Linked DNA regions of Homo sapiens. The protein of the gene in region 6 interacts with the protein of the main gene of each other region in a biochemical or structural test. Each region holds a gene or a part of one and is shown on either strand. Other genes may lie near its edges. The genes, in order: INTU, SIPA1L3, RHPN2, PDZD9, SIPA1, RASSF6 and LMO7.

Region 1 (4,235 bases), about 54 Mb from region 6:
ACATAATTAAAGATACTATCAAAATACCAGTGAGCTATATTAATAGAAATATAGACATACCAAAGTTATTTTTCTCATCATTCCTAAATATATTATTAGGAAATTGATGAAATAATTCATATTCATCCATTCATTTAAGAAATATTTACTGAGCACTTAATGTGTGCCAGGCACTCTTCTAAGCACTAGAGACAAAGAATTGAACAAAGACAAAATCTCTACTCTCAGGGAGCTTAATATTCTTTGGGGAAGATGGATAATAAACATGTATACAGGCTAAGTATCCCAAATCCAAAAATTGAAAATCCAAAATCCTCCAAAATCCAAAACTTTTTGAGCACCAACGTGACCCTCAAAGGAAATGCTCATTGGAGCATTTTGGATTTAGGATTGTCAGATTTGGGATGCTCAACAGGTAAGTATAATGCAATATTAAAAAAAAAAAAATTGGAAGCACTTCTGGTCCCAGGTATTTTGAAGAAGGAGTACTCAACCTGTATATGTAGAATCGTGTTGGTAGATAATTCTTCATGAGTCTCATGTTTCTGTACATCTTACAAGCCGAGGCATTGAGAGTCTTTGTTCTAGACTGTCTTTTCAAAGACGTTCGTGTAATGAACAGCCTTGGACAACAGAGATATGTTTCCATCCTGAGCAAAGGTCAAGCTTGTTTACTGAATGGTATAATAAGGTCAATGCTGTGCTCAATATCTTATTATTAATAACTGTTCTTTATAAAAGATTGGTGTTCCCTAAGTTCAGAGTTCCTTTCCTTTAAGGCAACCCATTATTAGGCATCACTTGGCCATCTGTAGGGTTGGCAAACAGATGAAAATGTTGCCACTGTAGGTACTGCTATTCCTCCTTTTTTTCCTTCCTCTCCTTGATACTCTATTGAATGAGAATGGGGTTAAGTGCAGAGTAAGCAGGAGTACTTTCTTAGGCCAACTGTGAAGGCTTGAACTAGGTTTAGATGCTCAAGAGATACAACTCAGATGGGAGTTTTGCAAGCATGGGCACCAAGTCATTATGATGGTTAACTATTACAGCACTTTGGACAAACTTTTCTTAAAAGTAAGAACTTGCAGACCAAAATAAACTTTCAACTTGAAGTCCACTTGGAAAAAAAAAAACACAACAAGATGCCTGTTTAATTTCTCCTATATAAGAGATTAAACAAAAGTACTATATCAAATTACTTATAGCTGTAGTGATTAAAAGAAAATAAAGGAATGATGGACACAGTATAGCTGTGTCAATGTAAAATGAAACCACTTTTGGACTATCCTAATGATTAGTTCTGTTGTCTATAGTTTGTTATCCTCAGGGCACAGAAATAGTAAAAACATTTTAAATTTGTTACTTTAAACTAAAACTCCATTGGATGATGTGCCAAATGACTTTTTTCTCCAAATCCTAATGAATACATTCCTGTAGCTGAGTGTTATAGGGAGTATTATCTAAAATTATCAAGTCTAACAAACCTCTAAAAAGAGGAGATGGTTCATCATAAAAATATATGAAAATAAATTCTGAAAGCAAGTGTAGTATACCCAATATTTTTAAATGTTTAGTAGAAAATTTTCCCATTCTATGAAATAAATATTATATCCACTTCTCATTCTCCCAGACATTTGTTTTCCTCTAGTGTTTCTGAACACTTCTGTGAAGTGACTCAGAGATGGCTGGCTTCCCGGACATCGCACCTTTGCAGTGGACATCCTAAACCCAAGGAAAGGTCTTTCTCCATAAGTACACGGGAGTCATTAATATGATCTGTCCCATTTCAAAGGCTAAAAGGGAATGAATTATATGATTGATTTGCATTGTTAAATAAGAAATGGCCTGGGTAGAAATATGAGAAAATTTTTATTAAGAGATATATTTAAGAACCAAATAAAATATTTTAAAAAGAGATCAGTTTATCACAGTTCCTCAATGTAAAGTTAAATTATGTGAGAAAAGCCATCAATTTCTCAGTATATACTTAACATCAAACAACATGTGTACTAAAGGGCTACTACATAAGGCACCAAGGGCTATGAAAATATATATGCAAAAGTTTGTTTACTGCTGTGTTTATACTATATATAAAATGAATATACAACTTAAATTATTTTTGACAAAAGATTATTGTATATAAATGTAGGAAAAGGGAGGATATATAACAAAATGTTGTCTTTGGGTATATGGAATTTTTCTTTTTTGCTTAATTGTATTTTCTAAATTGTCTACAATGAACGTATATTATTACTATCACAAAAAGAAAAAAAACTCATATTTTACCAAAAAACCCCCCACTGAGGTAGGCAGCATAATTGCCCCCCAAAGATGTCTATGTTTCAATCCCTGAAATCTCTGAATATGCTACCTTACACAGCAAGAAGGACTTTGCAGTTGTAATTAACTTAAAAGATTGGAAGACTGTCCTGGATTATCCGAATGATCGTCAGGTAAAGATAAAGGTCTTTATAGGAGGAAGGCAAAAGTGTCAGGGTCAGCATGAGAGAGACTGGAAGATGCTATGCTGCTGGCTTTGATGATGGAGGACAGGACCACAAGCCAAAGAATGCAGGTAGCCTCTGAAAGCTGGCCAAGGAATGGGATTCTTCCCTGGAGCCTCCAAAAGGAATGTAGCCCTGTGGACACCTTGATTTTCATACAAGAAGACCCATTTTAGATTTCTGGCTTACATTATTGCAAGATGATAAATCTGTATTGTTTTAAACCACTAAGTTTGTGGTAATTTGTCACGGCAGCAATAGAAGATGAATGCACTAGCCTAGTAATACAAAGCAATCTTTGTGATGCACCAAAAAAGGAATCACGAATGCTAAAAAGCAAAGATGGACACACAAGGTGTATCTGGAGGTCAGTTAGGAAAAAAATAAATCAGGCTTGCTTGTTAGAGGTGGGGATTTATGGATAGAAGGAGTGGCACATATGTATGGGACAGAAAAATGAGATCAAATTGTGAATTGAAATTGATCCTTTTAATTAAGCCAAATTTGACTTCAGGGAAAGGGAATCTGGTTTTTGAAAAGCAGTTACTATACTGCCATTTTATACATTCAAAACTCAATGTTTTCTGCCAATGCATTTACTAACAATAAATTTTGTTATTTTTTTTTGAGTTTCAATCTCAACCCCTCGTCTATAATATGTGGGCACCAAACTAGAGAGAATTAAGGCCCCTCCCAACCTACCATTCTGAAGTCCTTGAATAATGGTACCAACTTGCTTTTGTGAAAACTGTTAAATGAAGAAAAATCAGACATTTATCCTGCCTTTCCTGTCTAAACCATATGTCAAGGTTACCAGAGGTGAGGGGGAGCTTCTTTTTATGAAAGTAGTCTAACTGAAATATTGAGAAAGACTGACAGAATTGGAATATCACCATTTTGCAGTCCCTTAATGAATTAATGGATTTAGGCAATGATCATCAATAACTGTTAATATCACAAAAAGAAAAACAGCAGATAATATGTTGTTCCTGATGGAAGCACACAGACCACCTATAAAATATGTTTGATAGGCCTCAAGATCTAACTACCAACTCACAGGAAACACCACTGAAAGGGGGGCACGTTAAATGAATTCTGGCTCCTTTTACAGAACTAAAAGAACAAACCATAGAGATATTTAGTTCTATCCTATCATTTCACAAGAAGGAAAGTAGAGGACCCAAGAGAATGTAAGTATGTATTAGCCCCTGTTCCAGTCATCTATTGTTGCATAATAAGTCATCCAAACAATTTTTTTTTTTTTTTTTGAGACAGAGTCTCACTGTGTTCCCCCAGGCTGGAGTGCGGTGGTACAATCTTGGCTCATTGCAACCTCTGCCTCCCAGGTTCAAGTGATTCTCGTGCCCCAGCCTCCCCAGCAGCTGAGATTACAGGCATGCACCACAAGGCCCAGCTAAGTTTTGTATTTTTTAGTAGACACGGGGTCTTGCCATGTTGGCCAGGCTGGTCTCAAACTCCTGGCCTCAAGTGATCTGCCCACCTTGGCCTCCCAAAGTGCTGGGATTACAAGTGTTAGCCACCACGCCAGGCCTATCCAAATAATTCTGAGGCTTAAAACAACAACAGTTGGCCAGGCACGGTGGCTCACGCCTGTAATCCCAGCACTTTGTGAGGCTGAGGCGGGTGGATCACCTGAGGTCAGGAGTTCAAGACCAGCCTGACCAACATGGTGAAACTCCATCTCTACTAAAAAATACAAAAAAATTAGTC
Region 2 (4,235 bases), on a different chromosome or scaffold from region 6:
GGGGAGGAAGGCCCTGCCGGGGGACCGGGGCCACCCGTCCTGGAACTCCACGTCTTTGGACCTTCTCCTGGAGAGTCGGTGGAAGGCTTTGGACCCTGAGGAAGCCGGGGTGCTGGTGGGGGGCTGTCCGTTCTGTATGCTCCTCATGGAATGGGCCATCTTGGTGGCCTTTGTGCCATCTGTGTCCTGGGAGGGGCTTGGGTTGCTGTGCTCTCTCAGGGCCTCCCGCTTGGGCGGCCAGTCGGCCACCCTTGCGCGCACGCCCATCTTGGGCATTGCGGGAGTGGTGGGGCTGGGGCGGGTGGTGGCGGTGGCGGTGGCGGTGGCGGTGGCCGGGCTCTCGCCAAGAGGCTGGGACATGCTGCCATTCTGGGCCCAGAATCCCAAGGGAGCGTAGTCCCCTGTGTGTGGCCCAGGGAGGACATCGCCCACCCTGGCGCCACAGCTGGCTGCCAGGTCCACACCATCGCTGGGGATGGCCCGATAGGTGGTCATAGTCCACGGGCACTGGAGTGCTGCTGGCCCCGTACGCTGTGGTGTCACTCTATGGGGTCCCCCAGCCCTCAGCCATTGTTCAGGGCAGCCAGGCCCAGGATGAAGGATGCTGGGCCCTGAAACCTGACAGGAAGGTTGTGAGCCTGTGGAGTCCAGTTCTCCACCATCGCTGTGCACAGCTGAGCCAGGACAACCTCAGGAAGCAGGTGCTGTCCTGGGGGCTCCAGACCGAGTGGCTCAGTAGCGCAGAGCAGGCAGTAGCTGTGGTCGCCCGCCAGCTGGAGGCAGCAAGGATGTTGTCCTCGCCATGCTGAAATGGAAGAAAAGGAAAATATGAGCTGCGATGGCCGTGTTACTGCTCCCAGAAAGTGGGACATGTGACTTTTCTTGACAGCCTTACTCATTTAAAAAATCTTTTTATTATGGAAATTTGCAAACATACTCAAAAGCAGAGAGGAGACTGAGTCACCCATCAGCTCCAACAACCACTAACTATTTTCCATTCCCATTTCATCTATTCACCCAGCCTTGTGACCTTCTTTGTTTCTGATAGAATGTTTTAGAGTAAACCCCAGACATCATTTTTTTTTTTTTTTGAGACAGAGTCTCGCTCTGTCACCCAGGCTGGAGTGCAGTGGCATGTGCTTGGCTCATTGCAACATCCACCTCGAAGGTTCGAATGATTCTCCTGCCTCAGCCTCCCAAGTAGCTGGAATTCCAGCATGTGCTACCATGCCCGGCTAATTTTTCTTATTTTTAGTAGAGACGGGGTTTTGTCATATTGGCCAAACTGGTCTCAAACTCCTGGCCTCAGGCAATCCCCGCCCGCCTCAGCCTCCCAAAGTGCTGGGATTACAGGCATGAACCACCATACCTGGCCAGACATCAGGTCATTTCACCCATAAATATTTTAGCTTGTATCTCTAGTACATAAGATTTAAAAAAAAAAATCACAGTAACATTATCATACTCATCTACATTAACAAGAATTCTTTAATGTCATGCACTACCCTGCCTGCATTACATTTCCCATCATTGTCTCGCAGGTGTCTTTTGTGAGCTGGTTTGTTCGAAATCATCCTCTGCTTATGCAGGTATTTTCTCAAGTCTCCTCTACTCTACAATGGCCACCTTCCTTTATTTTGATGCTCTTTACTTGTTGAAGGAAAGGGGTCACCTGTCCTGTGGATTTCCCCACTTTCAGGATCCCTGAGGTGCCACTTAACATGTTCCTCTGCCCCCTGTATTTCCTGTGAACTGGTGGCTTCATGCAGAGGCCAGACTATTGTCCACCTGCTCTGTTGTTTGCTCAGCTCAGCTACTCTGCCAGAAAGGAAGTGAAAATGACAGATGAGTCAACATGAGCACCAGTGGAGTTTGGGGAGGAAAGCTGCAGAAGGAATGTCTCTAGAAATCCATGTGGTTACTGCAGACTATGACTGGGTAAATCAGAGCCCATCACTTTTTCACTGAGATCTCCCCAGTGACTACTTACTGCATTAAAACACCATCCAAACTCCTTCCCCTGCTCCACAAGCCCCGCAGGATCTGGCTTCCATGTCTCTCCCCATCCCTGACTAAGCTCTGATCATACTGGCCTTCTTTTCTGTTCTGATGCACCAAACCTTATCCAGGACATCTGATATCCTTCCTCAGTCCTTCTTGGGGCTGGTTCCTTCCCATGATGTCAGTTCTTCCATGGGGACTTCCGGCTGGGCACGGTGGCTCACACCTGCAGTCCCAGCACTTTGGGAGGCCAAGGCGGGTGGATCACTTGAGCCCAGCAGCTCAAGACCAGCCTGGCCAACATGGCAAAACCCCATCTCTACTAAAAATACAAAAATTAGCCAGGCATGGTGGCATGTGCCTGTAGTCCCAGCTACTCAGGGGGCTGAGGTAAAAGGATCACTCGAACCCGGGAGGTTGAGATTGCATGAGCCACGATCACACCACTGCACTCCAGCCTGGGCAACAAAGCGAGATCCTATCTCAAAAAAAAAAAAAAATCCCCAAAAACAAAAACAAACACAAAAACCTTCCCAAATCACCCTATAGAGACAGAGAAGCCCGGTCTTCTGGAAGCCTTTCTTAATTACCCACTCTACTTTCTTCCAATTTTTCTTAGCAGTTGTTCGTTCTGTCTACTGGCTAGGTCCACCACTCAAATGTTGGCTCCAGAATGGCAGGGATGTCTGTGTTGTTCACTGATGCATTCCCAGTGCCTAGAACAGTTGAGACGGAGTCTCGCTCTGTTGCCCAGGCTGGAGTACAGTGGCGCGATCTCGGCTCACTGCAAGCTCCGCCTCCTGGGTTCACGCCATTCTCCTGCCTCAGCCTCCTGAGTAGCTGGGACTACAGGTGCCTGCCACCATACCTGGCTAATTTTTTTGTATTTTTAGTAGAGACAGGGTTTCACCGTGTTAGCCAGGATGGTCTCGATCTCCTGACCTCATGATCCGCCTGCCTTGGCCTCCCAAAGTGCTGGGATTACAGGCGTGAGCCATCTAGAACGTCCAGGACGTTCGTTTAGTATTATACATATGAGTGAACAGATGGCCTCTGCCTAATTGGAGGTGTAAGTACCTCCTGATTTGCAGGCCCCTGGGGAAGGGAGTCTGTGCTTCTGTCCAGCATATAAAACACCCTGCGGGGTCACTTCCCTTTGTCTCCACCTTGAACTTCTAGAAGATGAAAATCCTGCTGGAGAGGAAGGGGAAAGTGGGTCGCCGTCTGTGATGGAAGCTGTTGACTGCCCAGCAGCCGTGCCCGCTCCCTCCTGCCAACGGAACTGATTTTGCTCAGGGCAGTGGAGTGCTGCTTTGGGCCACGCACTTGGTTCAAGGTGACCTCTAACTTTTCTTTCCCTGGGAATCTAGAGCTGGATGCAGCCGTTCTTGATCAATGGCTATTGGAGCTTCCTGTGTGAGAAAGTAGCAGGCCTCTTCTGCGTGTATGTGTCTGTGTGTGTGTGTCTGTGTGTGTGTGCGTGTCTCTGTGTATGTCTGTGTGCGTGTCTGTGTGTGTGCGTGTCTGTGTGCGTCTGTGTGTGTGTGCATGTCTGTGTGCCTGTGTGTGTGTGTGCATGTCTGTGTGCCTGTGTGTGTGTGTGTGTGTGTGTGTGTGTGTGCATGTATGCGCATGTGTAGGGGGGCTTTTCCTAATTTATGCCCAGTTATGGAGCGCACTGGCAGAGATCACAAGGGAAGCTCAAAGCAGATTCAAGGAGCAAATAGCAAGGGGAGCCTGAAGCCTCTGAAAAAGTGAGCACCAGAAGAGGGCAGGTGGAGAGTGGGGAGCAAGGGGGAGCCCCTCTTCCTGGTGCCCCACGAGAACACAAACGATCCTGAAGATGTTGCCGGGAGGCAGCACAGGGATGGGCTACAGAAGAGAGAGGAAGCTGGAAAGCCCTCAGGGTCGAGTTGCCTAAGGGAGACAGGAGAGAGGCCAAGAGGAGCCTGCACTGACCTGGATGGCAGGGCATCTTCTGACAATCAAGGCTTGCGGGAGTATGGATGTCAGATCATCTGATTTTCCAACAGAAATCAGAAATCTAGAGTTGCATGTAACATTTCCCAATTGGAAAAGCAAAAATATTGGCCAGGCGCAGTGGCTCATGCCTATAACCCCAGCACTTTGGGAGGCCGAGGTAAGTGGATTGCCTGAGGTCAGGAGTTCGAGACCAGCCTGGCTAACATGGTGAAACCCCGTCTCTACTAAAAATAGAAACGTTAGCTGGGTGC
Region 3 (4,235 bases), on a different chromosome or scaffold from region 6:
GGCTGAGGCAGGAGTATTGCTTGAACCCCGGAGGCGGAGGATGCAGTGAGCCGAGAGTGCACCACTGCACTCCAGCCTGGGCAACAGAGCGAGACTCCATTTCAGAAACAAAAAAAGCCAAGAGGCTGATTCCTTTTCAAGCATGGCCGGAGCCATCCCAACAAAGCACCAATTCCCAGCACTGCTCAGCACTCCAGGAAACGAGACCTGCTGGGAACTGCTGCCAAAGAAACTGTATCGAGTCAGGGTCTGGAATGCCCCAGAACCTGAGGAGGGGTCAGGCACTGAGCTGTCGCTCCATAAATCCTTTTCGGATGAATGGAGCATAATGTCATTTTAAAGAAAAGGGGAGGGAAGGCATGACACAGAGAACAGGATGAAAGAGAAGCCTGACTTCAGTGGAAATTCATTTGATCCTTAAGTGTGCATAAAATCCCAATAGTCACCAGGCGCAGTGGCTCATGCCTGTAATCCCAGCACTTTGGGAGGCCGAGGCAGGTGGATTACGCAGTCAAGAGGTTGAGACCATCCTGGACAACATGGTGAAACCCCAACTCTACTAAAAATACAAAAATTAGCTGGGCGTGGTGGCACGCGCCTGTAGTCCCAGCTACTCAGGAAGCTGAGACAGGAGAATCACTTGAACCCGGGAGGCGGAGGTTGCAGTGAGCCAAGATCCCGCCATTCCATTCCAGCCTGGCGACAGAGCGAGACTCCGTCTCAATAACAACAAAGAAATCCCAATAGTCAAAATACAGGTCCAGGTGCAGGGACTCACACCTATAATCCCAGCACTTTGGGAGGCCAAGGTGGGTGGATCACTTGAGGTCAGGAGTTCAAGACCAGCCTGACCAACATGGTGAAACCCTGTCTCTACTAAAAAATACAATTAGCCGGGCATGGTGGCGCACATCTGTAGTCTCAGCCACTCAGGTGGCTGAGGCATGAGAATCGCTTGAACCCAGGAGGTGAAGGTTGCGGGGAGCTGAGATTGTGCCACTGCACTCCAGCCTGGGGGACAGAGCAAGACTCTGTCTCAAAAAAAAATAATAATAATACAAGATGGGAAGCCTCATGGGTTCTCACTCACTGCCCCCGGCTGGCTCAGCCACCCAATCAATGCAGCAGCTGTTGGCAATCTTCACCCCCCGCCTCGACTCCTGGGCCCCATCCCCAGCTCACCTTCTCCCTGAATCTCCAGCCATTCCCCACCCAACTTCTTCACTTTTGTTTTTTTCTTTTATCATTTTTTTTTTTTTTGAGACGGAGTCTCGCTCTGCTGCTCAGGCTAGAGTGCAGTGGCGCGATCTCGGCTCACTGCAACCTCCACCTCACAGGTTCAGGCAATTCTCCTGCCTCAGCCTCCCGAGTAGCTGGGATCACAGGTGCCCGCCACCACGCCTTGCTCATTTTTTGTATTTTTAGTAGAGACAGGGTTTCACCGTGTTGGCCAGGCTGCTCTCAAACTTCTGACCTCAGGTGATCCGCCTGCCTCGGCCTCCCAAAGTGCTGGGACTACAGTGTGAGCCACTGTGCCCTGCCACACCTTTGTCTTTAACCAGCTCTGGACTTCCACATTCTAAAACAAAGCTGCCTTCTCTCTTCTCAGCTCCCCTCTTTCTCCAGCAATATCTTCCCTGCCCTTCTCCCCCTGTACCCTGTCACACTGACTTTTGTCCCCAATTCTCCAACCATGCATTTCCTAACGACTCCTAAAGAACTAAATCTAGGACCTTCCAGCATTCTTCTGACTTGTCACGCCTTGCTCGACTAACAAGACTGACCTCTCAGCTTCCTAGACCTGGCCACCCTTCTGGCTTTCCTCCCACCTCTCTACCCACCTCTTAAGCGGAGGATCCTTTCTAGCCCAGATCCTTTCACTCAATACCCCAACTGCCTCCCAGTTGGTGCCACCCAAAACTGCATCTCCAGCCAGGGCGCCTGCATGGCTGCTGGGCCCATGGAGTGGGCTCTCTGCTGGGACCGCCACATGGATATCCCATGAGGGCCATCAAGTCTACACACTAGCCTCCGCGTTCACCCGCATTCATGGATCTTGAGGAGGCGCATGACCAGACACCTCAGGCAGGCATTGTGACGTTTTTTTTGAGACAGGGTCTCATTCTGCTGTCCAGGTTGGAATGCAGTGGCGTGATCTCGGCTCACTGCAGCCTCCATCTCCCAGGCTCAGCGATCCTGCTGCCTCAGCCTCCTGAGTAGGTGGGACCATAGCTGGGTGCCACCACACCTGGCTAATAGGCAGGCATTTTGGATTCTCATTGGCAGCTCCTTCCCTGCCAATCACATCAGTTCTTTCCCTCTCTGCCAGATATTGCCCTTTCTCCAGCTCTATCATTCCAACCTCCTCATCACTAGAATCCCTGCCTTCTGTGTGGACCCCTGGTCTGAGCTAAGGGTGCAAGCTGGTGGAAAGAATGGGTGATTGAGGCTGTGTTTACACGGCCGTTTCTTTGTTTGTTTGTTTGTTTTTTGTGAGACAAGGTCTCACTCTGTCATCCAGGCTGGAGTGCAGTGACATGATAACAGCTCACTGCAGCCTCAACCTCGTGGGCTCCGGATATCCTCCCACCTAGGCCTCCTGAGTATATGGGATTACAGGAACACAACACTATGCCAGGCTGATTTTTAAACTTCTTATAGAGATGGGGTCTTGCTTATTGCCCAGAGTGGGCTTGAATTCCTGGCCTCAAGCAATCCTCCCACCTTGGCCTCCCAAAATGCTGAGATTACAGGTGTGAGGCACTGCACCCCACTCACAGCACTGTCACTGACTGCATCATCAGTAGTCCGTAAAAGAGAAGGAAGGGCAAAGATGATAGGTATTACAAGGGGCTAAATCCTCCCAATGCCTCCCTGCCTGGCTCCACCATAGCTTCTTTCCCATTCGCCACCCATTCACCATTCACGTGTCAAAGCGGTCTTTTTCTTACACAAATCTCACAGGTCTGGTCCTGCTTTAAATACTTTGATGGATTCCACAGTTCCCAGGTCAAGCAAGATGCATGACCCTGAACTGCCTGGCTCCCACAAACACCTCCACACCCTGGGGGGGCCTACAAAGCACTCACAAGTCCACAGCTCTGTCCAAGCTGTTCCCTCTTCCTGAAGGGCTCTTTCTCTCCTTTCACCTGGACAGCACCTGCCTTTCTTTTTTTTTTTTTTTTTTTTTGAGACGGAGTCTCGCTCTGTCACCCAGGCAGTGGCGCAATCTCGGCTCACTGCAAGCTCCGCCATTCTCCTGCCTCAGCCTCCCGAGTAGCTGGGACTACAGGCACCCGCCACCACGCCCGGCTAATTTTTTGTATTTTTAGTAGAGACGGGGTTTCACTGTGTTAGCCAGGAAGGTCTCGATCTCCTGACCTCGTGATCCACTAGACTCAGCCTCCCAAAGTGCTGGGATTTTTTTTTTTTTTTGGGTTGCAGGGGTACGGAGTCTCACTCTGTTGCCCAGGCTGGAGTGCAGTGGCACAATCTCAGCTCACTGCAACCTCCGCCTCCTGGGTTCAAGCGAGTCTCCTGCCTCAGTCTCCCAAGTAGCTGGGATTACAGGCGCCTGCCGCTACACCCGGCTAATTTTTATATTTTTAGTAGAGACAGGGTTTCACCATGTAGGCCAGGCTGGTCTCGAACTCCTGATCTCAAGTGATCCACCTGCCTCAGCATCTCAAAATACTGGGATTACGGGTGTGAGCCACCACGCCTGGTCAGCACCTGCCTTTCATTCGGCCATTTGGTTTTGTTTTGTTTTCATTTTTATTTTTAAAATTTTTTATAGAGCCAAGGTCTTGCTATGTTGCCCAGGCTGGTCTGGAACTCCTGGCTTCAAGAGATCCGCCTGCCTCGGCCTCCCAAACTACTGGGATTACAGGTATGAGCCACCACACCCGACCCTCATTTGCTTTAGGTCAAACTGGCTCAGGTCATAGATCAGGAAAGATTCAGCATCAACACCTTTTATTTTCCTAGGATAAATAGACTCTTCGAACTGGTATGACTTAACATGGAGTAGCACAACAATTGTTACAAGGTCTCATTTTCAAAATTGATGATTTTAATTGTAAAACAATGATTCCTCTTATTTTGCACCCCTGATTCTCTCATCCAACACCAGAGAAACTGCATCTAAAAAACACCCCACTTTAGGAGGCCGAGGTGGGTGGATCACCTGAGGTCAGGAGTTCAAGACCAGCCTGGCCAACATGGCAAAACCTTGC
Region 4 (4,235 bases), on a different chromosome or scaffold from region 6:
CCAACTCCTGGGCACAGTACTAGGCCCAGGCCAGGCACTGAGAAAACACCTCTTGAACTGCATGGAAAATTCATTCACCCAAAGACACGAGGAGCAGGGCAGTATTGGTAAAGCCCTTAGGCTCTGAAGTCTGACAGAGAAGGTTCAAATCCCAGCTCCTCAGAGTGACCATGGGAGAGTTACTAAACATCTGATTCCTTGTCTGCAAGGTGGTTTCATGCAGAATCTAGCTCAGGGATTGTGAGAGTGAAATGAGATCGTGCAGCTAAGTGTTAGCAATGCTTAATACTGCCTACGAAAGAAAATATCTTTACGCACTGAGAGCCATAGCTCTGGAGTAACATGGTCCCTGAATCCCCACTTAGGAGAAACAGGTGACCTGGACAAGGAACTCAATCTCACTGACCCTCATTAAGTAAATTTAATTTTTTTTTTTTTTTTAGAGGTAGGGTCTCACTCTGTTACCCAGGTTGGCATGCAGTGGCACAATCATAGCTCACTACAGCCTCGGCCTCCTGCACTCAAGTGATCCTCCCACCTCAGCCTCCTGAGTAGCTAGGATTACGGGCACGCACCATGCCGGGCTGCTTTCGTTTTGTTGTAGAAATGGTGATATGGTTTGGATTTGTGTCCCCGCCCACATCTCATGTTCAACTGTAGTCCCCGGTGTTGGAGGAGGGGCCTGGGGGGAGGTGACTGGATCACAAGGGCAGATTTCCCCCTTCCTGTTCTCGTGATAGCGAGTGAGTTCTTATGAGATCTGGTTGTTTAAACGTGTGTAGCACCTCCCCCTACTCTCTCTTCCTCCCGCTCCAACCATGTAAGACATACCTCCTTCCTCTTCACCTTCTGCCATGATTGTAAGTTTCCTGAGGCCTCCCCAGCCATGCTTCCTGTACAGCCTGCAGAACCATGAGCCAATTAAACCTCTTTTCTTATAAATGACCCAGTTTCAGGTATTTCTTTATAGCAGTGCAAGAACGGACTAATATAGACAGCATCTCACTGTGTTGCTCAGGCTGGCCTTGAATTCCTGGCATCAACGGATCCTCCCACCTTGGCTTCCCAAAGTGCTGGAATTACAGGTGTAAGCCACTGTACCCAGCCAGAATTAAATGAATTAATATGCCCAACAGTGATAGTTATATAAGTGATAGCCATTGGCTGGCCCATAGAAAGTTCTCAACTAATGTCATATCCTTTTTTTTTGAGACAGAGTCTCACTCTGTCACCCAGGCTGGAGTACAGTGCTGCCATCTCAGCTCACTGCAACCTCCGCCTCCCGGGTTCAAGAGATTCTCCTGCCTGAGCCTCCTGAGTAGCTGGGACTACAGGCGCCCGCCACTAGGCCCAGCTAATTTTTGTATTTGTATTTATTTTATTTATTTATTTATTTAATTATTTTTTGAGACGGAGTCTCTGTCACTCAGGCTGGAGTGCAGTGGCGCGATCTCAGCTCACTGCAACCTCCACTTCCTGGGTACAAGCGATTCTCCTGCCTCAGCCTCTCAAGTAGCTGGCATTACAGGCATGTGCCACCACGCCTGGCTAATTTTTGTATTTTTAATAGAGACAGGGTTTCACCATGTTGGCCAGGCTGGTCTCGAACTCCCTACCTCAGGATCCACCCACCTCAGCCTCCCAAAGTGCTGGGATTACAGGCATGAGCCACTGCTCCCAGCCAGTTTTTGTATTTTTAGTAGAGACAAAGTTTTACCATGTTGGCCAGGCTGGTCTCAAACTCCTGACCTTAAGTGATCCACCCCGCCTTGGCCTCCCAAAGTGCTGGGATTACAGGCATGAGCCAGCATGCCCGTCATATCCTTATAGTTACACTGAAACCCGGTGACCCGAGTCACCCTGCAGGCAGATGGGCAGGATGGGTGGTTGGGAAGCATGGCGAAAGGGCAATCACCTGGCTGGAGTTTCCCGTCGTTGGCTGCAGCCCCCTTCCTGATGAGGTGGGTGATCTGGAGGTAGGGTCCATGCTGGATGATGATGAGGCCTAATCCCAGGCTACCCACAGTGAGTTTGGTCTGCTGTGTTTTGCTCAAGTTGTGTACAGATGTTTTGACCTTGTTGCTGACTCCTCTTTCTAACCAAAAGAGGGGAACTTATTTCAGTCCTTCACCAAGACAGAAGCATGGCCATACCTACTGGGGTTCTGAAGCCAGATCCCTGGGACAGTTATTTAATCCCTGTTCCTCAGATTCCTTGTCAGTAAAATGAGGATAAAAATGTTCACCTTGGAGAGCTCTTCTGAAAATTAAATGGGTGCATTAAAGGGCTTTTGCAGAGTCTGGCATATTGTGAGTGCTTAATCAATATTAGTTAGTATTATCTGTTCACTTAACAAATATTTATTGATACAGTGTGCTAGGCCCTGGGTTTACCATGGTGAGCAAAACAGATGTGTTGGGTTTTTTGGTTTTAACAGACAATGTCTCACTCTGTTGCCCAGGCTGGAGTGCAGCAGCATTATCAGGGCTCACTGCAGCCTCGATCTCCTGGGCTCAAGGGCTCCTCCCACCTCAGCCTCCTAAGTAGCTGGGACTACTGGCATGTGCTACTATACACGGCTAATTTTTATTGTTTTTGTAGAGACAGGGTCTCACTATATTGGCCAGGCTAGTCTTGAACTCCTGGACTCAAGCAATCCTCCCACCTCAGCCTCCCAAAGTGCTGGCATTACAGGTGTGAGCCACCGTGCCTGGCCCACATGTGTTTCTTGTCCTCATGAATTTTACAGCCTAGTGGAGGGGACAGATATCAATCAGTCATGTAAATATATGTTGGATAACAAACTGTAACTCATGCTATGAAAGAAAAGGACGGAGGGCTCTGAGAATGAGTAACAGAGGGCCAAAGTCTCATCTGGGGATGGCGGGTCAAGCTTCCAGCAGGGCTAAAATTTGAATTAAGGCCAAAAGGACCAATAGGAAATATTTAGGCAAAGAAAGGTGGATCCGGAGCAAATTGTGTTAAGGTCTGAGAAAGGAAGGAACAGTCCCTGTCAGAGGAGGGGGAGGCAGGAGGAGCGAGGACCAACCAGACAGAGGCTGCTTCTCAGACTTCCTTAGTGAAAAGGCTCCGAAGTGAGTAAAGCTGGACATGGTTAGATGAAATGAAATGACATGAAAATGACAGGGTCCTGGCACATGTCATGGCAGTGACAGCGGAAATGAGCAGTGGATGGATCCAAAAAGCACATGGGGGAAAATCCGAAGGCCTTGGAGACAAGGGGTAGTGGGAGAGGTTGAAATATGTTTTCTACAGAACCAAATCTCACAAGAAAAATTTCAGGGACTAAAAGGACATTCAAAACAACAAGTTAATTTCCCAAGAGGAAGTTGCTAGGAAACTCCTTTTCGGTACACAGGAAGCTCCTGGGGAGATCTGTTTTCAGCACACTTTTCCAGCATTTCACACACAACTCCTTTCCATAAGGACAGGTGACACACAAGCTTGCCAAGTCCATGTGACTGTGGTGTTTTCAGGGCCACTGCTGAGGGAGAGGCTCCCCCAGCTCCCTACCTCTGGCTGTGGGGAGCTGGAGGGGTTCATGGCCCTTTCCTCTAAAGCAAATGTCCTTGCCCATCTCCAACCTCACCTTCCCCCAAACCACAGATGCTCTCTGTTTGGGAAAATAAAATAGCATAATATAAACAAGATACCATCTTCAGAGACCTTTCAGGGTTCTGGGAGCAACTGGGGGCAGGATACGCCCTGCCTGAGCCTCTGGTTCCTGAGCAAACAGAGAAGTCACATCTTGGGCAAGGTCCAGTGGTTCCTATCTCAGTTTGTAAATTCAATATGCTTATAAGGTAAGCTACCAGGAGCCCACTTTTAAAAGTCAGCAGGGTTAAGTAAAAGAAGCCAGACTCAAAAGGCTCCTTACAGAAGAAGGACATGTCTCAGGAGTTTGATCCAGACCTCTATAAGCAAATGCAGAAGTTCGGGAAGGCAAGAAACACAAGTACATCTTGAAAAAAAAACAAAAAAAACTTTGTGCAAGGCACGGTAGCTCACGCCTGTAATCCCAGCACTTTAGGAGGCCAAGGCGGGTAGATCACGAGATCAGGAGTTCGAGACCAGCCTGGCCAACATGGCGAAACCTGTCTCTAAGTTACAAAAAATTAGCTGGGCATGGTGGCGCGGGCCTGTAATCCCAGCTACTTGGGAGGCTGAGGCACGAGAATCGCTTGAACCCAGGAGGCAGAGGTTGCAGTGAGCTG
Region 5 (4,047 bases), on a different chromosome or scaffold from region 6:
TCTCTCCTCTCTCTTTTTTTTTTTTTTGAGACGAAGTATCCCTCTTGTTGCCCGGGCTGGAGTGCAATGGCGTGATTTCGGCTTACTGCAACATCCGCCTCCCAGGTTCAAGCAGTTCTCCTGCCTCAGCCTCCCTTGTAGCTGGGATTACAGGCATGCACCACCACGGCCGGTTAATTTTTTCTATTTTTAGTAGAGATGGGGTTTCACCAAGTTGGCCAGGCTGGTCTCGAACTCCTGACCTCAGGTGATCCACCTGCCTCGCCCTCCCAAAGTTCTGGGATTACAGGCGTGAGTCACCGCGCCCTGAACCTCTATCTTCATATGTAGAATGGGACCAGTTAAGCGCGTTGCTCCCACTGCTTAAAAGATCAAATAGCAGCCCCCACTATCTTTTTTTTTAAGTATTGGCACCCGCCCACCCAACACACACACTACACACTATTGATAACTTCCTGTGCTAAGCCAGGGGTAGGCAAACATTTTCTGTAAATGGCCAAATAATAAATATTTTAGGCTTTCTGGACCATCTGGTCTCTGCCGCAGCTACTCTGTCGTAGGTAAATGAATAAATAAATGTGCCTGTGTCTCGCTAAAACTTTATAGACACTGAAATTTGGATTTTACATGATTTTAACTTATCATGAAATATTCTTTTGATTTTTCCACTAGTTAAAAATGTAAAATCCGGACCGGGCGCGGTGGCTCATGCTTGTAATCCCAGCACTTTGGGAGGCTGAGGCGGGTAGCTCACCTGAGGTCAGGAGTTCGAGACCAGCCTGGCCAACATGCTGAAACCCGTCTCTAGTAAAAATACAAAAATTAGCCAGGTGTGATGGCAGGCATCTGTAATCCCAGCTACTTGGGAGGCTGAGGCAGGAAAATCACTTGAACCCAGGAGGTGGAGGAGGTTGCCATGAGCTGTGATCGCGCCATTGCACTCCAGCCTGGGCAACAAGAGCAAAACTCCATCTCAAAAAAAAAAAAAAGTAAAATCCATGCTTAGCTCGCAGTACAGAAACTGGCACATCTGCTTTAGAAAAGAAAAGGAAAAGGCACAGGCTGGATTTGGCTACAGACAGTAGTTTTGGGATTTAAGCAATTTACACGTGTTATTTAAATCCTCACAGCACACTATGAGGTTCGTACTATTATCCCCATTTCACAGATGGAGAAATTGATGTTCAGAGTGATTTGCTTGGGATATACAGGGGCAGCACTGGAATTTGAACCATGGTCTGGAAAAATGGCCAGTAACCAGGCAGACATTTTTCACTGTTGTCAGGATGCCGGGGAGCTCTCCTGCTCCTGGAAGTGAGCCTGGCGGGCTGGGGGTGGGGCTAGTGATGCAGGACGCTGGGGACTGGAGAAGTCCTGCCTGACCCTGTCCCACCCCACAGGAGTTTTTCGGAGCTGTACACGCTGTCGCTGCAGGAGCCTAGCCGGCGGGGGGCCCCAGATCCTGTGCAGGATGAGGTCCAGGGGGTGACCCTGCTGCCCACCACAAAGCAGCTGCTGCACCTGTGCCTGCAAGATGGTGGCAGTCCTCCAGGGCCTGGGGATCTGGCCGAGGAGAGGACTGAGTTCCTGCACAGCCAGAACTCGCTGTCACCACGCAGGTGCACACTCTTGGCCTTCCCTCTCCTCCAGGCCTCTGGGAAAGCGGCTTCCCTTTCTGAGCCACCCCTGCTCTCCCCAGCTCTCTGTCGGATGAGGCCCCAGTCCTGCCCAACACCACCCCGGACCTCCTCCTGGCCACCACAGCCAAGCCATCAGTACCCAGTGCTGACAGTGAGACACCCCTGACCCAGGTGAGCAGAAACCAGGCTCTGGAGCCCAACAGCACAGTGGTGACAGTGGGCATCACTGAATCTGTATCCACTTCTGTGGCACAGGACAGGCCAGGCAGTCCCAGTGGCTCTGAGGACAAGGGCAACCCGGCGCCGGAGCTGAGGGCCTCCTTTCTGCCACGTACCTTGTCTCTGCGGAACTCCATCAGCAGGAGTGAGTCTGGACCCAGGAGAGCAGGGGAGGGGTTGGGGGGTGCTCCTGGGCTTCCCTAGCTCAGCCTGCTCCTTGTGCCCACAGTCATGTCGGAGGCGGGCAGTGGGACCCTGGAGGACGAGTGGCAGGCCATCTCGGAGATTGCCTCTACTTGCAACACCATTCTGGAGTCGCTGTCCCGAGAGGGTGAGGCCACCAGGGTGCTGCGGTAAGCCTGGGCAGTGCTCTTGCCCCCTTTCTGACCTGCCCACCTGATCCCTTTGTCCCCACAGGACAGCCCATCCCAGAGAGTGGAGACCCTAAGGGAACTCCAAAATCTGATGCTGAGTAAGCTCCCCAACTCCCCACAGCCGCTTTACCTGCCCACATGACCCCCCCTTCGTGCCTGTCTGCTGGGGTGGAGCTCTGTCCTGGGCTCTGCTGCCACATATGCCTAGAAGACCAGCGGGGCCCCTCTCATTAGCTGGGGCTGGGAGTCAGCTGGTGCACTGCCCCCTGCCTTGGTCCTGCTGAGTCTTGACCCCCATGTCTTCAGGCCAGAGCCTGGGAACCTCTCAGAGAAGGTCTCTCACTTGGAGTCCATGCTCAGGAAGCTGCAGGAGGACCTGCAGAAGGTGAGGGGTGGGCTGAGCTTGGGGGGAGTCACAGGGCTGCCCCAGGAAAGGGGCTGGCGGCTCTGACTCCTGTCTCCCCGGCACCCCAGGAGAAGGCGGACAGGGCGGCCCTGGAGGAGGAGGTGCGGAGCCTGAGACACAACAACCGGCGGCTGCAGGCGGAGTCTGAGAGTGCAGCCACACGCCTCCTCCTGGCCTCCAAGCAGCTGGGCTCACCCACCGCCGACCTGGCCTGAGCCGTCTGGAACCACCTGGGCCCCTGAGGGCACTGTGGTCACACTGGGCCCTCCTCAGGAACTCTCCCTGCGCAGAGGCGTGTCTTAGCACTGCCCCCCTCCCTAGCCCCTTATTTGGTGGCGGAAGTGGCCTCCACCCCTTCCCTGTTTGTAAATATTCTGTGGAGAAAAGAGGACTTCAGGGAGTAAAAAAGCCACTGATGTCTGTGTCTGAACATGTGTCCAAGACAGGGCAGGGCAAGGGGTTTTGCCTCCAGAGGCCCCAGCCAAACTCCTCGGACCAGTCAGGACAGGCCCTGGGAACACTGGCTCAGAGATGGGCTGGCACTCACTGAGGGGTCCCTGAGGCCAGGCCACTGCTTGGCTTCTCTCCCATAACGTTTATTTGGTTCTGCAGGGAAGCAGGTGGCCACACCCCACAGCTACCCTGGCCGTGCATCACAAGGCCCTGTGCCTCAGTGCAGGCCTCACTCTTCTCTCTGAAGCCACTGAGCCCCCAGGCCTTGTCCTCTCTCTACCCACCTGGCCACTTCTTGCAGGGCCCAATTCCAGAGGCGGTGGCATCTCCGCCTCAGTTGACTGGGGCTGTTTCTATGTCCTGGAGGAAACGGGCCCTTGACCCACTTCCCTCCTCACCAGCCTATGGTCCTCTCTGTTCCTCGCGAGGCCAGGCCTTTCCCCGAAGTGGCATCATCAAGTCCAAACTTGGGACTTTGTCTAAATCCTTTGGTTTCTGGACCTGAGGCCCAGATAGGGCAGACTTGCCCAGCATCTCATGCCTATTCCAGTCCCTTCCCTAGGCTGGCTGAAGCTCCATGGTGAGACCTAGGCCCTGGGTCTGTTAACTTAGGTGCTGGCAGGATGAGCTAGGCTCGGAGAAACAGAGCATCTGAGGATCAGGAAGGCTTCATGGAGGAGGTAATATGAGGGCTGAGTTTTGAAGGCTGGGTAGGAGTTCACCAGGCAGAGACGTCAGAGGTATCCTGGTAGGACCAGTCTGGCTGAGGCCTGCTGGACTAGAGCCAAGGCACACCCAGGAACCCAGCGTCAAAGAAGCCAGATCAGAAAGGGTTGTGAAGGTGCACTAGGGATCCTGGGTTAGCAGTTCCCAAGACTGCCACTTTTTCCTGGTTGTGGACTAGTGTGGAAGGCTGTGGTCACTGAGGGTGTGTCTGCAGAAAACTCGGATCTGG
Region 6 (4,235 bases):
CACTGCTTTCAGGAGTAGAACATGAAGTGTCTCCTATTTAAGTAATAAGGATGTTAACTTAAAGGAAAACTTCATCATCACCTAGAGCCTAGTAAAGGAGCTTAAGAGGAGAGAGTGTCGATTCTTTTGCAGCAAATATACAAACAGGAAAAATGAGTCGTGATCTTTGTGACGTCAGCCTAAGAATTTCTACTGGGAAGCTCAGGTGAAGCAGAAAATTTTTGAGTTCCACCACACCAGTAATTCCAGAAGATGCTGTCGGCAGACTGAGCAGCGCCTCCCAGACCCAGTGGTGGCAAGATGCCTTAAGTGCCTTAATACAAATTTGCTTCTCTGACCGTTTCTGCTTTCTTTATCTCCCTGAGGGCACCTTGAGCAGAATAAAATGCATGGCATTAGTACCATGTAAATATGCAATAGAACAGTAAAGTTTTGGCATTTCCAATTAGATTCCACTTGAACTGAGGGCAGTGGCATGCTCACATAGAAGTGTGTTTGATTCATATTCTGCTTAGTCCTCTCTTAGATTCAATGATTATAATACATTATTTCTATCTCAAAACCAACAATCACTGACTGCAACCAATATTACTTAATTAAGTGATAGTTTGTATATATGCCAACTCTTGACCTTTACTGTCTCTGCAAATAAAGCACATTTTAAGAAAAAGTATGGAGCCAAATGTTTCCCAGAAACCATCACTCTGTTAACTCTTTTCCTTTTTTGAGAGAACTAGATACTGGATGGAATTATAGATGCTTTGTCTCATTTTCTTGAAGTGATGTAATTGCATATAACTCTGCTCTTCTCTACTCCAAGGTTCCAGGTCATAACTTTGAGAAAACAGTTTCGTTTTGGAGATGAATACATAATTGTAACTTTCTATTGCTTCTTCAAGCTGAAACAATATTTTATTAAAAAGACTCTCCGTGTGTACAGCCCTTAACATACTCTTATCTCATAATTGAAATACACACTTGCTATTCTAGTGTGATACTTTCTGTTCTTTTTTTAAGTAGCTTTTACTGGGGACGTGGGTGAGAGAGATGTAACATATATTCCTTGTCTATGATTTAGACAGTACATACAAAATAAAAAAAGAAATAATTATCACACATAATCTCTTAGCTCTTAATTTTACCATTAATATTATAATATACCTCTCTGTATGTTGGATGTATTCAATATTTTGTGTATGTTTTATCTATATGCCTGCATATATTCACTCACTTTAGAAGACACAAAAATGAAATAGCAATAATTCTGTCCTAAAGGACCTAGTAATCAAATTAAGTAAAATAAAATATGGTTAGAGAGAGAAAGCAGTAAGTAATTAGAAAGCTACAGAAAATTTCCTGTGAAATTTCAGAAGCAAGAGAAATTGTCTTTGGCTGGGAAATACAGGGAAGTTAGCACCTGTATATATATGTATAGATAGATAGATAGATAGATAGATAGATAGATAGATAGATAGATATAGATATATGTATATATATTAGTTCTTTGTAAAATCATTAGCATTATGACACTTTGTGCACCTTGTGGCCTCAGAAATAAGAGGCTATAGATATAGATACAGGCTATACTTTCTGTGCCTAGCACGGTAGCAGGTGCAGAGAAGGAACTCGTGAAATATTTGTTGAATTTACAAACGAGTGAACCCAATTTTCCACTTTTAGATATGTAACCATTTAATTAACTCATGGTTGGATAACAGGAAGTTACTTTAAATGACTGACCCATTTGATTTAATTTGTACTAGAATTCACTTCCTGTCCTCTGGCCTCATTCTGGTCACAAGGCAACTGGTAAGTCCAGGCAAGCCCACCTCTAGGCAGGAATGCAGAGCAGGGGGAGGTGAACCACGTTCCAGCATTGCTGGAACGCTAATGCTGCCCAACACTGCCTCCTCAGGCTCCATCCAGATCTCATTGGCTTGTTCAGACCAATTCTACCTCTCCTATACTTCTAGTGCTGTTGATTTCTCCAGGACTTAATTGCTGACCTATCTAATTCCCTGTTTCTCCAGCTTCATTGTTTCTGGACAAAATGAAAAAGTAAATAACCAAACTTATTAAATAATGATCTTATTTTACACACAATCTAAGTCAATAATCTCTGGCCCCAGGGCCTACATAGATTTGTAACAACCATCTTCCTCCTCAAGTTGTAGTTTATTATGTTCTACCAAAATTACTGAACATCCCAAGTAAGACCTCCAGGCTTCTAGAACTGTAATTTTTTCTTTCTTCATAAATTCTCTCCCTCGTTGCTATTCATGACTTCTCTGTTATTCTCCTCTTAAGTCCTTGAGAAAATTTGCTCAGATGCTTATATCTACCAAGTCTTTATAATTTAGGAGATTTTCACAAGGGCCCTAGCAGGTTTTAGTTTGCTATGAATCATGGTGAATGGGAATGGGAAGATGAGGATGAAAAACTATTTGAATTCATAGATCTATGCCTCACTTCATTGTTTTTGTTTGTTTATTTGTTTTGCTCTTTTTTTTTTTTTTTTTTTGAGACAGAGTCACACTCTATCACCCAGGCTGGAGTGCAGGGACACAATCTTGGCTCACTGCAACCTCCATCTCCCAGGTTTAAGTGATTCTCGGGCCTCAGCCTCCCAGGTAGCTGGGATTAAAAGTGTGTTCCACCACACCCGGCTAACTTTTGTATTTCACTTCACTGTTAATACTAACAATGGGACTTTTACCAAAGCATGTTCTTACCTTTCAGGTATTTAAACTGTTTGAATATTTTATTTACCCAATTTTTAGATCAGACATGAATAATATTATTTCCTACTCAAATATTATGTGCTGCCTATGAATGAAAATTTTATCCTGTTTTTATTTTCTTACATTAAATTATATTCAACTTTCTTCCTTCCTAAAGTCAGAAAATAATATAAGAGCCTTGGAAACCCTTTCATCACATCTTCTGAAGTCTTCTGAAGCTGGCTATGAGTTACCTCAGCATAGATCAACAGTGTGTCACTATAACTACATTGCAATTATTTGCCCTCTTTAATGATATCTTTGATATTTCTTATGAATGCAAATAAAGAGTGAGCCAGTTGGAAAGCTACTGCAATGATTTTTCAGTCCATCACTGCCAATTTTCACTTTGTAATTATAAGAAGCTGCTATCAGTGGTTCTTCAGTTCCAAATATCCCCAGTGTCTGGTGAGGGAAGCAAGCTGTCTGGTTCTTAGATGGTCTTTTTGCTATGCTCTGACATGGTGGAAGGGTCCAGGCAGCTTCTGGGGTCTCTTTTATAAGGGCACTAACCACATTCATGAAGTCTCCACCATCATGAACTAATCACCTCCTAAAGTCCTCACCTGTTAATACTATTGCATTGGGGGTTAAGTTTCAACATCTAGGTTTTGTGGGGACACAAACATTCAGACCACAACAGAGGGAGGCCCTCTAGTAGGCTGACGCAATAATCCAGGAAAAAGATGATGGTGGCTTGGCTTAGGGTAGTAGCAGTGGAAATCAAAGCTTTCGAATTTGGAATATGTTAGTGGTACAGTGAATAGGACTTACTTTTGGATTGAATTTGGCTTATGATGAAAGAGGGAAAAAATGAGACTAAATATTAGTTTTGATGCCTAGATGGGAAAGAATTGTGGAGGAGGAAATTTTAGAGCATGGGAGAAAGTCAGTGGTTCTTTTTCAGCCATGTAGATATCGAGATGCCTGGTACACATCTAAGTAGAGATTAGGTAGGTGGTGACATGCGTCTGGAGCTCAACAGAGATTATGGGATGGAGACAGATTCGATTACCTGGAAGAATGTATAGATAGAGAAGAAAGGATGGCTGAGAATGGACACTCAAACAAGCCAGTATTTAGTGATCATACAAAGGAGGAATCAGCAAAGGAGACTAGTGTTGAGGCCTGTGAGATAGCAGGAAAATAGAGTGAGGTGATTGTTATTCATGGTTTGTCTCAAAAGCATCAAGAAGAAAGTGTTTTAAAAGGTAGGAAAATCAATCTTGTCAAATGTTGCTAAGAGGCCGAGAAATGAGGAGAGAAGTGAACTCTTTGGCAAGGTATAGGCTCTTGGAACATGGATGGAGAGGTGGAGGTAGGGCTAAATTAAAGGAATATATGATAAATAATCTGGACCCAGGAGGAAGAAGGAAGTGTTTGGACCCCAGGGTCATCACTGGGGGATTTCAGTCGGGGACATTAATAACCCTTTTGGTGGGTTATTAGAATGAC
Region 7 (4,200 bases), on a different chromosome or scaffold from region 6:
ATGCTGACATGGAGTCCAGTCATCATTCAAAACTTTACAAGGTTATTGGAGTTGACTTTGGGGTATTCAAAGCTGCAGTTGCGAATATATATGTAATACAGATAGAACATATATTATAATACATATGTATATATGTACATACATATACAATATATACACTTAAAAACCCTCCTATATTTCAGTAATGTGTAAAGGAATAGGGCAAAATGTAGCAAGACTATCAGCAAGCAGGGGAAAGAATACTTTACAAATACACATTGGAATCAACCTTTTATCTTCAGATTAGGGGTTCTTAAAGAGGTTGTGATGATGACAGAGTCATTCATCCTGCTTCTTTTGGCAAGAACAATATTTTAAAATATGTGCTTTGGTGGCAAAGGCAAAGCTGACAAGAGAGATAGATGTGGACACTGGAGAAACAAAATAGCCCTAACAGTGAGCACACTGTGGTCATTTCAAATGCCCAGAGTATACTAAAAGTATCTGAACATGTAAATTACTCATATATACACAATGAAGGCAAACATACTGCCTTGTTCCAAGTGGGATGAAAAAAAATTTTAATTTCATTAACTATATTAAAAGGATATGACAGTACCTTTAGGAAGATCCAGCTCTCTGCTAACGATGAACAAAATACATTATAGAGGTGCCAAATCATTGCTGATAAACACCTTTACATAGACTGCGATGAGAGTGAAAACAGACCACATGTAATATGCGCAATGATATCTTTTATCACAATACACTTTCCCCCCATTCATTACATACAAATTTCTTGGAGAAAACCTACATAATTATGAGCAAGCAGGGACAAAAAAGGAATTCATCGTTTTCCAAAATGTGCATACTAAAAAAAAAGGGAAGGGTGTGGAATCATTCCTATTCATGTTTCCTGAAGCAAATACAAAGCACGCAGATGCAAACTCCACACAGAAGCCATGTATGACCAAAACATGTCCCCACGTCTCCCCTTCTCCCTCCTTCAATCCCCAACACTCAAACACAAAATGGCAAGTTTGTTTTCTAAAATTATGCAGAACACACACTGCTAATGGAAAATTACAGTTGGAAGTCTTGGCTTTTCAAAGTTTATGAATGAGGGAAGTTATTTCTCTTAACTATATTGCTGGAATTTTTCCACTCTCATTTCAATTCAAAATACAGCGTTTATTCTTCTCTCAACTTCCCATGCCCCTCCCTTCACATCTTTCTAAGTCACCTTCAGACCAGCTCAAAGTTTCAATCTAAAAAGACACTAAAAGCTCATTCCTTAGACCTCCCTACTGTCCCGTGGTTAATGCTACTCACATTTCACATTCCTTTATTTAGCGTAAGAAATGTAATTTATTCTTTCTTTCCACACACATACATGTATTTCTTTAAGGAAAAATACATTATTTTCAAGTATCGTTCGCTTTGGAATTCTTAAACATGTAGTTTTTTCCGTGGAATAATCTTTAAGCCTAATTCGAAGTTTTAAATATGTTAACTAAACCAGCACGTGGCATCAATAACTCCTAAATGACTGCAGGGCTTGTGCACGCCTCAATTTTCAGCAGTTGTTCCTGATTCACATCTGCTTGGAAGACTTTTGCCTCGTTTTAAAAGTCATCTTTTGCGTCCAGTGGAATAACGGCTAGAAGTCCTGATGTTAACCTTCTACAGATAAATGTAGCCCCAAGGCGTTAATGAAGAGACCCGCTCTTTTTCAGGGTGAAAGAAGGGAATGGAAGATCTTGTCTGTGAGGCACAGCTGGGAGGGTAACAGCTCTTCAGCGAATGATCCTAGGATCTCAGTCTCATCAAAGCCGAAAATGAAAAAGCACATGCCCCGGCCCCTACCCCCTGGGCTTGGATGCGGCCCCAGAGAAATCATCCTTCCAGGTGGGCCTTCGGTGTGTTACCTCCTCCACCTGCCCTCCCACCCACCCTTCTTTTCCGCTCCCCCCCTCCACACTGAATACACTGGCTTCTCAGGTATAAGGTGAGCATCCCCACTTCTAGGCACCCCGAGGGAATGCACCCGAGAGCCCTGGCCCAGCTCTGCACCGCGCGCTCTGGGCTGTGCCCCGCAGAGACGCCCCGGGCGAGCCAGGGCGGACTGCGCTGCTCCTCCGGGACGCGCGATGCCGGCAGGCGAACGCCCACCTCTGCCCTAGGAAGCCAGTGACACCGTCGGGGGGCGGGGGTTAGGGCAGCGCCAATCTAAGCGGGACATAAGATGCAGGAGCGGCAGAACCCGCAGAGTCCCCAAAAGTGCACAAGCAAACCAGCTTGTTCACGTCGGCTGGGTCGCCGAAGGAGGCTAAAGTGCAGAGTGACTGGGGCTGCAGTCACCTCGCGACGACCGCCCCGAGGCAGTCAACACCTGCGGAAGGGAAAGCAGTGAAAGGCACTCACCTCCACCCATCTCTGAGCCTCAGCGAACGCCACGGAGCAGTTGGCCTCTGCCTCCTCCAGCCCTTCCATGGCTAGGACAAGGGAGGGAGAGAGAGACTCGGGATGCGTGGAGGGGAGGGGTTGTCCCCGCGCGTCTGGGCCCCACGGGCGGGGAGGGCACGCGGGCCTCCCACAACTCCGGCTTCCGCTCCGGCTGCGAAGGCGCCGGGGCTCTAGTTCCCTTTGTTGCGCTCTGCAGTTCGTTAAGGTCTCGAACCTACACGAACGTGAAGACCTGGCTTTCTCTAAACTCCTGAAAGCGACCCAAGGCCCGCGGGGACCCGGGCAGTCAGGCAGGACGCGGGAAGCGAAGCGGGTGCCCAGCGGCAGCGCGCGGCACCAGCCCCGACGACAGTTTGGACTTCAAAAGTCGCAGCGCCGCCGCCGTCCTCCCCGCGGTGGCCCCGCCCCGGCCCACCCCACCGCCCTCCCGGGGCCCGCCGAGTCGCCGCTTCCGTCTGCCCCTCCCTTGGCTCCCCGGGCTCCCGGCCGCGGCCGCCTCTGTGGTCAGACTGTCTGGCCCGGGAGATGCCACAGTCCGCCAGGGGCCGCGGCCCGGGCCCCGCTGGGGTTCCCGCACAGCCCGCGGCTCCGCCCCGAGAGGATGCGCCCCCGCGCCCGCATCCTTCCCGCACCCGCCCGCCTGGCCCCTGCCCTCTCCCGGGCCCCTGAGAGCGGCGCCCCTCCCGGCTCGCGGCCGCCCGGCCCGCTTGACATACCAGAAATAGCTGCACACAATTGTACCTTTCCCGGCCAAGAAACCTCCCCCGCTGGGGAGCGCGGCCCGCCGCCCTCACCTGAGCCCCGGCCAGCTGAGCCCGCTACCCGCTCTCCCGCCGCGATCCGGCCCAGCCGCCAGGTGAGCGCCGTCCCCTCCCACGCTCCCCGCCCCCTGCGGCGGCCGGGCCCTCCCGGCGGCAGAGGAGGGTCGTGGCCTTGGCACGTGCTGCCGCTTCCCCCCGGCGGAGTTCGGCCCCGCTCCGCCCGGCTTCCAGGTGGGTGCGGTGGAAGGAGGGTCCCTGCCCCTCCACCCCGGCTCGCGGCTGAGGGTTCGAGCAAGCTGGAGGGTTCCTTGCATTCCCCACTTCCCGCCCGCTCAGCCCAGTTTAGGCCGTTTGATGATCGCCCTCGCGGTGAGCGTCAAAATTCCCACCCTTCGTGGTTTGAGGACACTCAGGGGACAGCGAGGTGGCAGGTTATGCGGTATCCGCCGCGGCCCTGGGTAGGTGTGCAGGGCCGGGGGGTTGGGGGCGGGGCGGGAGGCACACGGGTCGGCTTGCGCGGGTCTTTTTCACACCAGTGCTCAAATCAGGTCTCCACAAAGGAGCCTACTCATCTGTCTGAGCTCCCTGGTCCCTCACTCCACGCTCCTGAGGCACTATCCAGGCCACAGGTTGATGGCTTCATCTTTGGCGGAAGACAAAGACCGGTTCTTACTCTGCTGAAACGAAAGCAAACTCTTGTTCTTATTTTTCTGGTTGTTTTTATGAAGAAAAACGTCAGATACAGAGCAGAGACTAGTAGAATACTATCTAAAACCTAGCGTCTGTATTTAACAACTGTTTGCCTTTTGCCTTATGTATCACCTTTTCTGCTGGAGGGTTTTATTTTTTAATTTTTTAAATTGTATTTACTTTCTGTTTGTTTTTGTTTTGTTTTGTTTTGTTTTGTTTTGTTTTGTTTTGAGATGGAGTCTCACTGTTGCCGAGGCTGGAGTGCAGTAGCACCGTGTCGGCTCACTGCAACCTCCGTCTCCTG

The links.
Region 1: the proteins of RASSF6 (region 6) and INTU interact in a test that uses a peptide from one of them, tested with the Homo sapiens proteins (one large-scale study listed by IntAct).
Region 2: the proteins of RASSF6 (region 6) and SIPA1L3 interact in a test that uses a peptide from one of them, tested with the Homo sapiens proteins (one large-scale study listed by IntAct).
Region 3: the proteins of RASSF6 (region 6) and RHPN2 interact in a test that uses a peptide from one of them, tested with the Homo sapiens proteins (one large-scale study listed by IntAct).
Region 4: the proteins of RASSF6 (region 6) and PDZD9 interact in a test that uses a peptide from one of them, tested with the Homo sapiens proteins (one large-scale study listed by IntAct).
Region 5: the proteins of RASSF6 (region 6) and SIPA1 interact in a test that uses a peptide from one of them, tested with the Homo sapiens proteins (one large-scale study listed by IntAct).
Region 7: the proteins of RASSF6 (region 6) and LMO7 interact in a test that uses a peptide from one of them, tested with the Homo sapiens proteins (one large-scale study listed by IntAct).

The regions. Positions count from the first base shown.
Region 1 is NC_000004.12:127,645,722-127,649,956, reverse strand, and holds part of INTU (protein inturned), read right to left. Parts: intron 1-4,235. UniProt on the Homo sapiens protein: Plays a key role in ciliogenesis and embryonic development.
Region 2 is NC_000019.10:38,077,826-38,082,060, reverse strand, and holds part of SIPA1L3 (signal-induced proliferation-associated 1-like protein 3), read right to left. Parts: intron 806-4,235; 5' UTR 496-805; coding exon 1-495. UniProt on the Homo sapiens protein: Plays a critical role in epithelial cell morphogenesis, polarity, adhesion and cytoskeletal organization in the lens.
Region 3 is NC_000019.10:33,058,057-33,062,291, forward strand, and holds part of RHPN2 (rhophilin-2), read right to left. Parts: intron 1-4,235. UniProt on the Homo sapiens protein: Binds specifically to GTP-Rho. May function in a Rho pathway to limit stress fiber formation and/or increase the turnover of F-actin structures in the absence of high levels of RhoA activity.
Region 4 is NC_000016.10:21,994,407-21,998,641, forward strand, and holds part of PDZD9 (PDZ domain-containing protein 9), read right to left. Parts: intron 2,096-4,235; coding exon 1,916-2,095; intron 903-1,915; exon of another isoform or gene 857-902; coding exon of another isoform or gene 832-856; intron 1-831.
Region 5 is NC_000011.10:65,647,862-65,651,908, forward strand, and holds the end of SIPA1 (signal-induced proliferation-associated protein 1), read left to right. Parts: intron 1-1,330; exon of another isoform or gene 1,331-1,392; intron 1,393-1,400; coding exon 1,401-1,619; intron 1,620-1,650; coding exon of another isoform or gene 1,651-1,699; coding exon 1,700-1,811; intron 1,812-1,895; coding exon 1,896-2,004; intron 2,005-2,088; coding exon 2,089-2,190; intron 2,191-2,276; coding exon 2,277-2,331; intron 2,332-2,539; coding exon 2,540-2,618; intron 2,619-2,707; coding exon 2,708-2,854; 3' UTR 2,855-3,051; downstream 3,052-4,047. UniProt on the Homo sapiens protein: GTPase activator for the nuclear Ras-related regulatory proteins Rap1 and Rap2 in vitro, converting them to the putatively inactive GDP-bound state. Affects cell cycle progression.
Region 6 is NC_000004.12:73,613,465-73,617,699, reverse strand, and holds part of RASSF6 (ras association domain-containing protein 6), read left to right. Parts: intron 1-1,763; coding exon of another isoform or gene 1,764-1,809; intron 1,810-4,235.
Region 7 is NC_000013.11:75,634,930-75,639,129, reverse strand, and holds the start of LMO7 (LIM domain only protein 7), read right to left. Parts: upstream 2,801-4,200; 5' UTR 2,473-2,800; coding exon 2,404-2,472; intron 1-2,403.